2 linked regions of the Homo sapiens genome follow. The protein of the gene in region 2 purifies or fractionates together with the protein of the main gene of each other region. This does not show direct contact. Each region holds a gene or a part of one and is shown on either strand. Other genes may lie near its edges.

Region 1 (5,472 bases), on a different chromosome or scaffold from region 2:
ACCTGTAGTCCCAGCTACTTGGGAGGCTGAGGCAGGAGAATCGCTTGAACCTGGGAGGCGGAGGTTGCAGTGAGCCGAGATCGTGCCATTGCATTCTAGTGTGGGCGACAGAGCGAGACTCCATCTCAAAAAAAAAGAAAAGAAAGAAAGAAAACCACAGACCAATATCCTTTATGAATATGGTCACAAAAATCATCAACGAAATACTAGCAAACCAAATCCAACAGCATGTAAAAAGGATTATACATGGTGACCAACTGGGAATTATCCCAGGAATGCAAGGTTGGTTCAACATACTAAAATCAACCAATGACTGGGCATGGTGGCTCATCCCAGCAATTTGAGAAGCTGAGACAGGAGGATCACCTGAGGCCAGAAATTCTAGACCAGCCAGGTCAACATAGTGAGACTCCATCTCTACCAAAAAATTTAAAAATTATCTGGGTACAGTGGCATGTGCTTGTGGTCTCAGCTCCTTGGGATGCTGAGGTGGGAGGACTGTTTGAGCCCAGGAGGTTGAGGCTGCAGTGAGCTATGATGGCACCATTGCACTCCAACCTGGGCAATGGAGCAAGACTCTGTCTCTAAAAACAAATAAATGTTACATACCATATTAATAGAATAAAAGGGAAAAAAAACACATGATCATGTCAGTTGAGAAAAAGCTTTTGACAAAATACCACTCATGATTAAAAAAAAAAAAACACTCCACAAACTAGAAATAGAAAGGAAGAAAGGAACTTCCTCATCCCAATAAAGGGCAGCTACAAAAATCCCACAAAATGTGATAGTTTAAAATATGTCCATAAATTCTTTCACATTCCTTTAAAACGTGGAGCCTTATTTGCCTCACTTGAGTATGAGCTGGACTTGGTGACTCACACCCAGGAAATAGAATAAGGCAGGCTAGTTGTGGTGGCTCATGCTTGTAATCCCAGCACTTTGGGAGGCCGAGGCAGGTGGATCACCTGAGGTCAGGAGTTCAGGACCAGCCTGGCCAACATGGTGAAACCCTGTTTCTACAAAAAATACAAAAATTAGCTGGGCATGGTGGTGCACACCTGTAATGCCAGCTACTCAGGAGGCTAAGGCAAGACAATTGCTTGAACCTGAGAGGCACAGGCTGCAGTAAGCCGAGATTGCGCCACTGCACTCCAGCCTAGGTGACAGAGACTCTGTCTCAAAAAATAAAAAAATAGAATAAAGTAGAATTGATGATATGTGAGGTAAGAGACTACTTCATAAGAGGAACTGTTTCTTATTTGCTCTCTCTTCATCTAGGGAACGATAGCCTCAATGTCATAAGCAGCCACCTATGAAGAGGCCCATGTAGCAAGGAATTGAGGCCTCCAGCCAAGGGCAGGTGAGTGCCCCATTTTGGTAGCACAACCTCTGGCCCCAGTCCAACCTTCAGGTGACTGCAGCCCCAGCCAAAATCTTGTTTGCAACCTCGTGAGACGCCCTGAGCCAGGCCCACCCAGCTGAGCCCCTCCAAGTTTGTTGTTTGAAGTTTTGGTGTAATTGGTTTCACAGCAATAGAAAGCATTACACAAAGTGTCTTTCTAACCTGAAGACTCAGAAGGTCTTGGGTTTCCTGTGGGTAATTGTTCTGGAAACCAAGGCAACAGGACCTAGGGCCAACTAATTTCTCCCAGTTACTAGCCGTATGACCTCATGGAGAGGACTTCACCTCTCTGTGCCTCTGCTTCCCTACCTGTGAAATGGAGATATAACTAACAACTACCTTCACAGGGTTCCCATTGTCCTTCCTCCTACCTGGAAACTGACACTCTCTCAACCAGGGTCTCCATCACCGCCTGGTTCTCTGTCCCCCTCTTTCCAGTTCTCTGTCCCCACCCAGCCCCTGTGTCTGTTCCTTCTCTCTCTGGGTCTCTATCCCCCTCCTCTATTTCTGGTCTTCTGTCTCACCCTGATTCAGCTCTGTCCCCCAAATCTCAGAGTCTCTGACTTATTTTTCCTGAGTCTCTGCCTTTCTACTCTTTAGGTCTCTGTCTTCTTTTTTTTTTTTTTTTTTTGAGATAGAGTCTCACTCTGTCACCAGGCTGGAGTGCAGTGGCACGATCTCGGCTCTCTGCAACCTCCACCTCCCGAGTTCAAGCGATTCTCCTGCCTCAGCCTCCCGAGTAGCTGGGATTACAGGCATGTGCCCCCCTCTGTCTCTGGGTCTCTGTCCTCCTCTCTCTCTGGGTCTCTGTCCTCCTCTCTCTTGGTCTCTGTCCCCCACTCTCTGGGTCTCTGTCCCCCTCTCCCTGGTCTCCCTTCCCCTCTCTCTGGGTCTCTGTTCCCCTCTCTCTCTCTGGGTCTCTGTCTCCCTCTCTCTCTGGGTCTCTGTGTCCTTCTCTCTGCCTGTCCCCGCCTTCTCTCTGGATGCAGCTCAGGTGCTGGGTGCTGGTTCCAGCTCCTGCTGCCCCCCTCACCTCTCCAGCAGGCACCCCAAGGTCATTACTTTTTCCATTTCACAGAGAAGGAACTTGAAGCCCGTTAGAGGCCGACACTCCCCTGCAGCCCCACAGCGAGCTGGCAGCTGTGTCAGACCTTGATCCTGGCTGCCTGGGGTACTTTCTCAGGCTTCACGATCCAGTGGGGGATGTGACTCAGAAATAGCTCTGGTGGGAGGCAAACGGCTGCAAGTGCTGCCTGAGGGACACTCCCCAAGACAGGGCGGAGAGCTCTTCTGTCTGAGGGAGGAGATGTCTCCCAGACATCCTTCCCAGCCCAGACTCTTTGCCCTGTTCTCTGCAGCTCCTCCTCCTTCCCTGGACCCTCGCCCAGGCTCCCCTCTGGCCTCCCTGCCTCAGTCTCTCCCCTCCAAACATCCCCCACTCAGCCCAAGGGAGTCTTGGGGAGAGAAAGCCCTTTTGCATTAGTGACAAAAGCAGCAGCCTTCTTGTCTTGGTCCTGCTTCTTACAACCCCTCCAACCTTGACCTTGTGGAGGTTACTACACCACTGTCTACCTTAGTTGTTTCTTTTTTTTTTTTGAGACGGAGTTTTGCTCTTGTTGCCCAGGCTGGAGTGCAATGGCACGATTTCGGTTCACTGCAACCTCTGCCTCCCAGGTTCAAGCGATTCTTCTGCCTCAGCCTCCCACATAGCTGGGATTACAGGCATGTGCCACCACGTCCGGCTAATTGTATATTTTTAGTAGAGATGGGGTTTCTCCATGTTGATCAGCCTGGTCTGGAATTACCGACCTCAGGTGATCTGCCTGCCTCAGCCTCCCAAAGTGCTGGGATTACAGGCATGAGCCACGAAGCCCGGCCTCAAATATTTTTTTAAAAAATTAGCTGGGTGAAGCCGGGAGCGGTGGCTCATGCCTGTAATCCCAGCAGTTTGGGAGGCTGAGGCAGGCAGATGACAAGGTCAAGAGATCAAGACCATCCTGGCCAACATGGTGAAACCCCGTCTCTACTAAAAATACAAAAATTAGCCGGGCGTGGTGGCACACACCTGTAGTCCCAGCTACTCGGGAGGCTGAGGCAGAAGAATGGCTTGAACCTGGGAGGTGGAGGTTGCAGTGAGCTGAGATCACACCACTGCACTGCAGCCTGGCAACAGAGCGAGACTCCATTTCCAAAAAAAAAAAAAAAAAATTACCTGGGTGTGTGGCATGTGCCTGTAGTTACAGCTACTCGGGAGGCTGAGGTGGGAGGATCACCTGGGCCTGGGGAGGCCAAGGCTACAGTGAGCCAAGATTGTGCCTGGACTGTCATGCTGTCACTCCAGCCTGGGCAACAGAACAAGACCCAGTCTCAAAAAAAAAAAAAAACCGAAAGAAAGAAAAAAATTTGTTTAGCTGGGCACGGTGGTGTACACCTGCAGTCCCAGCTACTTGGGAGGTCAAGGTGGAAAGATCGCTTAAGCCCAAGGGTTTGAGGTTGCAGTGAGCTATTATCATGCCAGTGCACTCCAGCCTGGGCAATAGAGTGAGACCCTGTCTCAAAAAAATAAAATAAAATAAAAAGAAAGAAAAAGAGAGGCCAGGTGCGGTGGTTCATGCCCGTAATCCTAGCACTTTGGGAGGCTGAGGTGGGCGGTCATCTGAGGTCAGGAGTTCGAGACCAGCCTGGCCAACATGGTGAAACCCCATCTCTACTAAAAATACAAAAATTAGTCAGGTGTGGTGGCGCTCTTGTAATCCCAGCTACTTGGAAGGCTGAGGTGGGAGAATCACTTGAACCCAAGAGGTGGAGTTTGCAGTGAGCCAAGATCGCACCACTGTACTCCAGCCTGGCTACAGAGTGAGACTCCATCTCAAAAAATAAAGAAAGGAAAAGAGATATTTGTTAAAAAGAATAAATGTGGCTGGGCATGGTGTTGCACTCCTGTAATCCCAGCACTTTGGGAGGCTGAGGCCCAAAAATTGCTTGAGTTTAAGACCAGATTGCACAACATTGTGAGACCCTGTCTCTACAAAAATTATTATTATTGTTATTATTTTTTTTTTGACAGACTCTCGCTGTGTCGCCCAGGCTGGAGTGCAGTGGCGTGATCTCGGCTCACTGCAACCTCCGCCTCCCGGGTTCAAGCAATTCTCCTGCCTCAGCCTCCACAGTAGCTGGGACTACAGGCGCCCACCACCACAGGCACACACCATCAGGCCCAGCTAATTTTTGTATTTTTAGTAGAGACGGGGTTTCACCATATTGGCCAGACTGGTCTCGAACTCCTGACCTCATGATCCACCCGCCTCGGCCTCCCAAAGTGCTGAGATTATAGGTCACTGCGCCTGGCCTACAAAAAATTTTTTTTTAATCAGCCAGGTGTGTGCCTGTGGTCCCAGCTACTCAGAAGGCTGAGATGGGAGGATCCTTTGAACCCAGGAGTTCGAGGCTGCAGTGAGTTGTGATTGTGCCACTGCACTCCAGCCTGGGAGACAGAGCAAGACCCTGCCTTAAAAATAAATAAACAAAAGCTGGGCGTGGTGGCTCACGCCTGTAATCTCAGCACTTTGGGAGGCCGAGGTGGGCAGATCACCTGAGGTCCGGAGTTCGAGACCAGCCTGACCAACATGGAGAAACCCTGTTTCTACTAAAAATACAAAATTAGCTGGGTGTGGTGGCACATGCCTGTAGTCCCAGCTACTCGGGAGGCTGAGGCAGGAGAATGGCTTGAACCCGGCCGGGAAGCAGAGGTTGCTGTGAGCCAAGATCACGCCATTGCACTCCAGCCTGGGCAACAAGAGCGAAACTCTGTCTCAATAAATAAATAAATAAATAAAATTTAAAAATAAAGGAACGAATGTATGCATCTCCGTTTTACAGATGAGGAAACCAGGGCTCCCTGAACATAGAAAGTGCTAGTGAATCTTATCAGCATCATTAAGATCATGGCTATTGTTAATGTGGTTCTCAGTATCTGGTAGAGCCTGTTTTAGGCCTGGCCCAGGGGAAGCCAGGTGGGGGGTGAGGATCAGAGGTGCAGTGAGTTAAAGGACCCATTTGTAACCCTC
Region 2 (4,072 bases):
GCTCAGCAAATACTTCATTTTAACGCTATCCACTGCTACCCTATTCACAACCTTGGAAGAAATTATAAGCCCTCTTTTATGGTTCACTTTTCCTTATTCAAGTAATCTGCTCACTAGCTGTTCTTCTTTTATTTTTTACTACACGACAGTAACGAGTTGCAATGGAAAGGTCATCTGATCTTAACCCGAACTGGAATTATCTAAGAGCATTTTATATACAGAGATAAAATGGATTATTTTACAGAATTAATTTTACCCCCAATAATGCTAATACACTTTACAGAAGTACAATGTTACTATTTGCTAACTACAGGTAATCAGCTACTTCAAGGCAGGGACCATGTTTGCCGATTGGGATCATTAAAGCACACAACAGAGCACCATAGCATTTAGAATAATTAATATTCCTGAGATTGTCTTGAAAAGACTTCCATGTATCGCTAATAGGATTCCTAATGCATGTAAGTCTTTTGGAAAGTTAGTTACATCTTTAAGAATCTTGAGCAAATTCTGGTTTATTCACTAGATGGATATATGTGAGAAACTAATTTTTGATAAATCTGAGGATAAGAACTGTGTATTTAAAAAATTTTTAAAAACAGAAAAAATTGTGTATTAAATGTAATTACAATTATTTCTTTTTAAGAAACTGCAATGGAAAAAAAGACTGGAAAGAAATGTTAGCAGTATTTGTAGTTGGGTAATGAGACTATGGCTATTTTCTTTTCTCTGTATGCTAAATTTTACTTAGTATGCACTAGTTTTACAATGAAACAATTAAAGAAAAAAGAGGAAGGAAGGAAGAAAAGAAGGAAGAAAGGAGGGAAGGGAGAAAATAGGAAGGAGCACTGCTTAAAGGTAAGAAAATGGCCTAATTAGACCAGTTAGTAACCACTTAGTTAAATGCTATAATTAAGCTTTTACCCTAGCAAGGAACTTTCTAAGTGATCACAAATGATAACTAAGTCATATAATATCTGCACTGAAGGGACATCTTACCTAATTCTGTCATTTGACAGGTGTAGCAAAGAAATTATAATTATACAATGCTTTACAGTTTACAAAGTGTGTTCAAAATGTCACATCATCTGTCCTTCAAATACTCCTGAAATAGGCTCATATGCCCCATTTTAAGGATCAGGAAATTGAGGGTTACAGAGATAGTAATGTGCCTTAATAATAATGTCTATGATTTATCAAATGTTTACTATGTGCCAGACTCGGGGATAAGCACAATCTTGCGAAAATTATCCCTATTTTATAGATAGAAGGTGAAGGGGCCGGGCGCGGTGGTGACTCACACCTGTAATCCCAGCACTTTGGGTGGCAAAGGCAGGCAGATCACTTGAGCCCGGGAGTTCCAGACCAGCCTGGGCAACATGGCCAAACCCCGTATGACGGGGGGGGGGGGGGGCAATTAGCCGGGCGTGGTGGCACACACCTGTAGTCCCAGATACTTGGGAGGCTGAGGTAGGGGGATGGCTTGAGCCCAGGAGGCAGAGGTTGCAGTGAGCCGAGATAACGCCACTGCACTACAGCCTGGGCAGCAGAGTGAGACCCTATCTCAAAACAAAAATAAAAAAAAGGAGAGAAAAGAGAAAGTGAAGGGTAGCCAGGCACAGTGGCTCACGCCTGTAATCTCAGCACTTAGGGCGGCCAAGACAGGAGGATCACTTGAAACCACGAGTTGGAGACCAGCCTGAGCAACATAGCAAGACTCTGGCTCTACAAAAAATAAAAAAATTAGCCAGGGTTCGTGGTGTGAGCCTGCAGTCCCAGTTGCTCGGGAGACTGAGGCAGGAGGATCGCTTGAGCCCAGGAGTTCGAGGCTGAAGTGAGCTATGATCGCATCACTGCACTCCAGCCCGGGCGACAGAGCAAGTTCCCGTCTCTTTAAAAAAAAAAAAAGAAAAGAAGGAAGGAATGTAGGTAGGTTAGGTGACTTGCTCGAGATCATACAGCTAAGTCACTGCTCTGATTCTAAGCCATACACTTAAAACAGAAGTCTTGAGTTACCTATAATTCAACTTCACAGAGCCCTTTAGTAGAGTTGGCTTATTATCCAGTCCCATGTTCTCTCTTTTAAGAGTTAGTAAGTCTGACAGCCATTATGAGGGTCTACAAGCAAAAGCACTAGCCCAATCATACCCAAAAACTCATGTTGGCGGAGAGCCCATGCCTCAGATGAAAGGCGTGAATAACTAGAGTGGAGCGGACAAAGCTAACAAGTCTTATAATGTACACATTAAGAAGCAGAATAAACTTCAGAGTAAATACGCAGAATAAACTTCAGAATTCAGAGTAAACACTCTCTCCCGGAGCAGCAAGGATAACAACATCACGATATCAACAATTCCAGCACCTTACACTCCTGTAACCTAGCGCAATTTCCGGAGAGCCTTCAGGTTCATCTCAACGGATCCTCGCAAAAACCTGTGGCCTGGGCTGAGCAGAGCGGGAAATCAGTCTCACTTTACACAGGAAGCCGAAAGGAACGCCGAAGAAGGCCGAGTGGGCAGAAAAGCACGAGATTAAGAGATAGGGGCAGCCACCTGGGGAGACTGGGCGCCTCCACTGACTGGAGGAAGAACGCAGGGCCCGCTGCGGGGACAAGGCCCAGAGAGGCCGTGGTGCTGGGTCCGTCGCCCGCTGAGGCTCAGGGGCCTTGGAGGTCGGCCCAGGCGCCTATCTACTCACGTTGGACCAGCTGGTCTCCTGAGAAGACGGAGGAGCAGCTGGTGACTAACGCACAGGGTACGCCAGCAGCCATAGCTGCGCTCGCGAGCCGGTTCCGTCAGGCAGCCGCTTCCGCCTTGGGCTGCACCACGGCCGCCGGCGCGAGGGGGAGACAGGCCGGAGAGGGCGTTCTCGGAATGACCAGGCTGGCCTGACCCCGCCCCTAGACCCCCTTCCGCTCCCAGCGTGGAACAGGCCAGGTCGCGCGCGGTGTTGCCATGGGGACGAGCGGCTCCGGCTGAAGGTTTCCGTGCTTGGAAACCGCGCCTCCGCGGAGGTAGCCGTTCCCTGACCTAGCCATGGCACAGAACACTGAAAACCACGACCCTGTCGGATCCATCTTAATCCAGGTGGGAAACGGGCTTCCCCCGGCCCTGCCCTGCCCAGCCGCGCCACTTCCGAGCGAGGTCCCGCGCGCCGATTCACCGACGCTCACCCATTTGGTGCGCCGCCCCTAGACTCCCTCCAACTCGCGAGAGGCTCCCAAAAATGCCCACCCAGACCTTCCCCCACGGCCCAGCACACTCCCGGTGACTTACCCTGTAGGTTACGCCCCAGAAGCAGGACTTTCTGCCTCTGGGAAAACTCTAAAACCGTTCACCCGGAACCTTTACTTCAGAAAAATTAACCTCACGCTGAGGCATCATTTTTAAATGTTATATTCTGAAAAATTTGAACCCATGACGTCGGGAGTGGAGGAGAGACAAATCGGACACTCTAGGAGGTGATAAGAAATTTGGAGACAAATTGAAATATGTGAATTGCTTTTCTTAAACACCCCAGTTTTTTAGATCTAAATGTTCCTCATTGGAGAACACACAGAAAAATCAAGATAACTTGGAATGAAAAAATGTGACATTTAAAAACTTAGTGAAAGACCTTTTTAATTTGAGAGGGGAAATGTCAAGAAAGTCTTGTCCAATACAGCTCAATTTGTAATAGTTGCACTCAGATGTTTCTGAAATGATCATGGCATTTTGTTTTCACATTTATGTGAGGTAACTTTAAGATATTTCCACATATATCATCGGTTTTAACTATCACATATATAATAGCTGCATTTGACTAAGTCTTGAAGTCATTTGTCTAAGGTCACTCTGTCAGGACTGTCACTCAGTTGGTCTGAAGTGGGTCTTACTCGTCAAAGGGATCTAATTTTTCTGGCAGAATTTTGATCTCTTACCTCCCATCTAGGAGAGACTTCCCTAAATGTACCTTTTCCCAAATACAAGCCCCTGAACTCACCAATTTCATAGACTTCCCCATTAAGAATCATACCTAATCTTACCTGATCTTTTCTCACCCTCACTTTCACCATCACGCAGCAATGAGTTTA

What was found. Proteins that work in one complex are often made in the same cells at the same time.
Region 1: the proteins of AAGAB (region 2) and TSKS purify together in Homo sapiens (affinity purification with mass spectrometry; one large-scale study listed by BioGRID and IntAct). This does not show direct contact.

What each region holds. Positions count from the first base shown.
Region 1 is NC_000019.10:49,755,874-49,761,345, forward strand, and holds part of TSKS (testis-specific serine kinase substrate), read right to left. Parts: intron 2,007-5,472; exon of another isoform or gene 1,282-2,006; intron 1-1,281. UniProt on the Homo sapiens protein: May play a role in testicular physiology, most probably in the process of spermatogenesis or spermatid development.
Region 2 is NC_000015.10:67,251,862-67,255,933, forward strand, and holds the start of AAGAB (alpha- and gamma-adaptin-binding protein p34), read right to left. Parts: upstream 2,801-4,072; 5' UTR 2,771-2,800; coding exon 2,698-2,770; exon of another isoform or gene 2,553-2,697; intron 1-2,552. Other genes in the region: IQCH (IQ domain-containing protein H), read left to right, coding at 3,036-3,086. UniProt on the Homo sapiens protein: May be involved in endocytic recycling of growth factor receptors such as EGFR.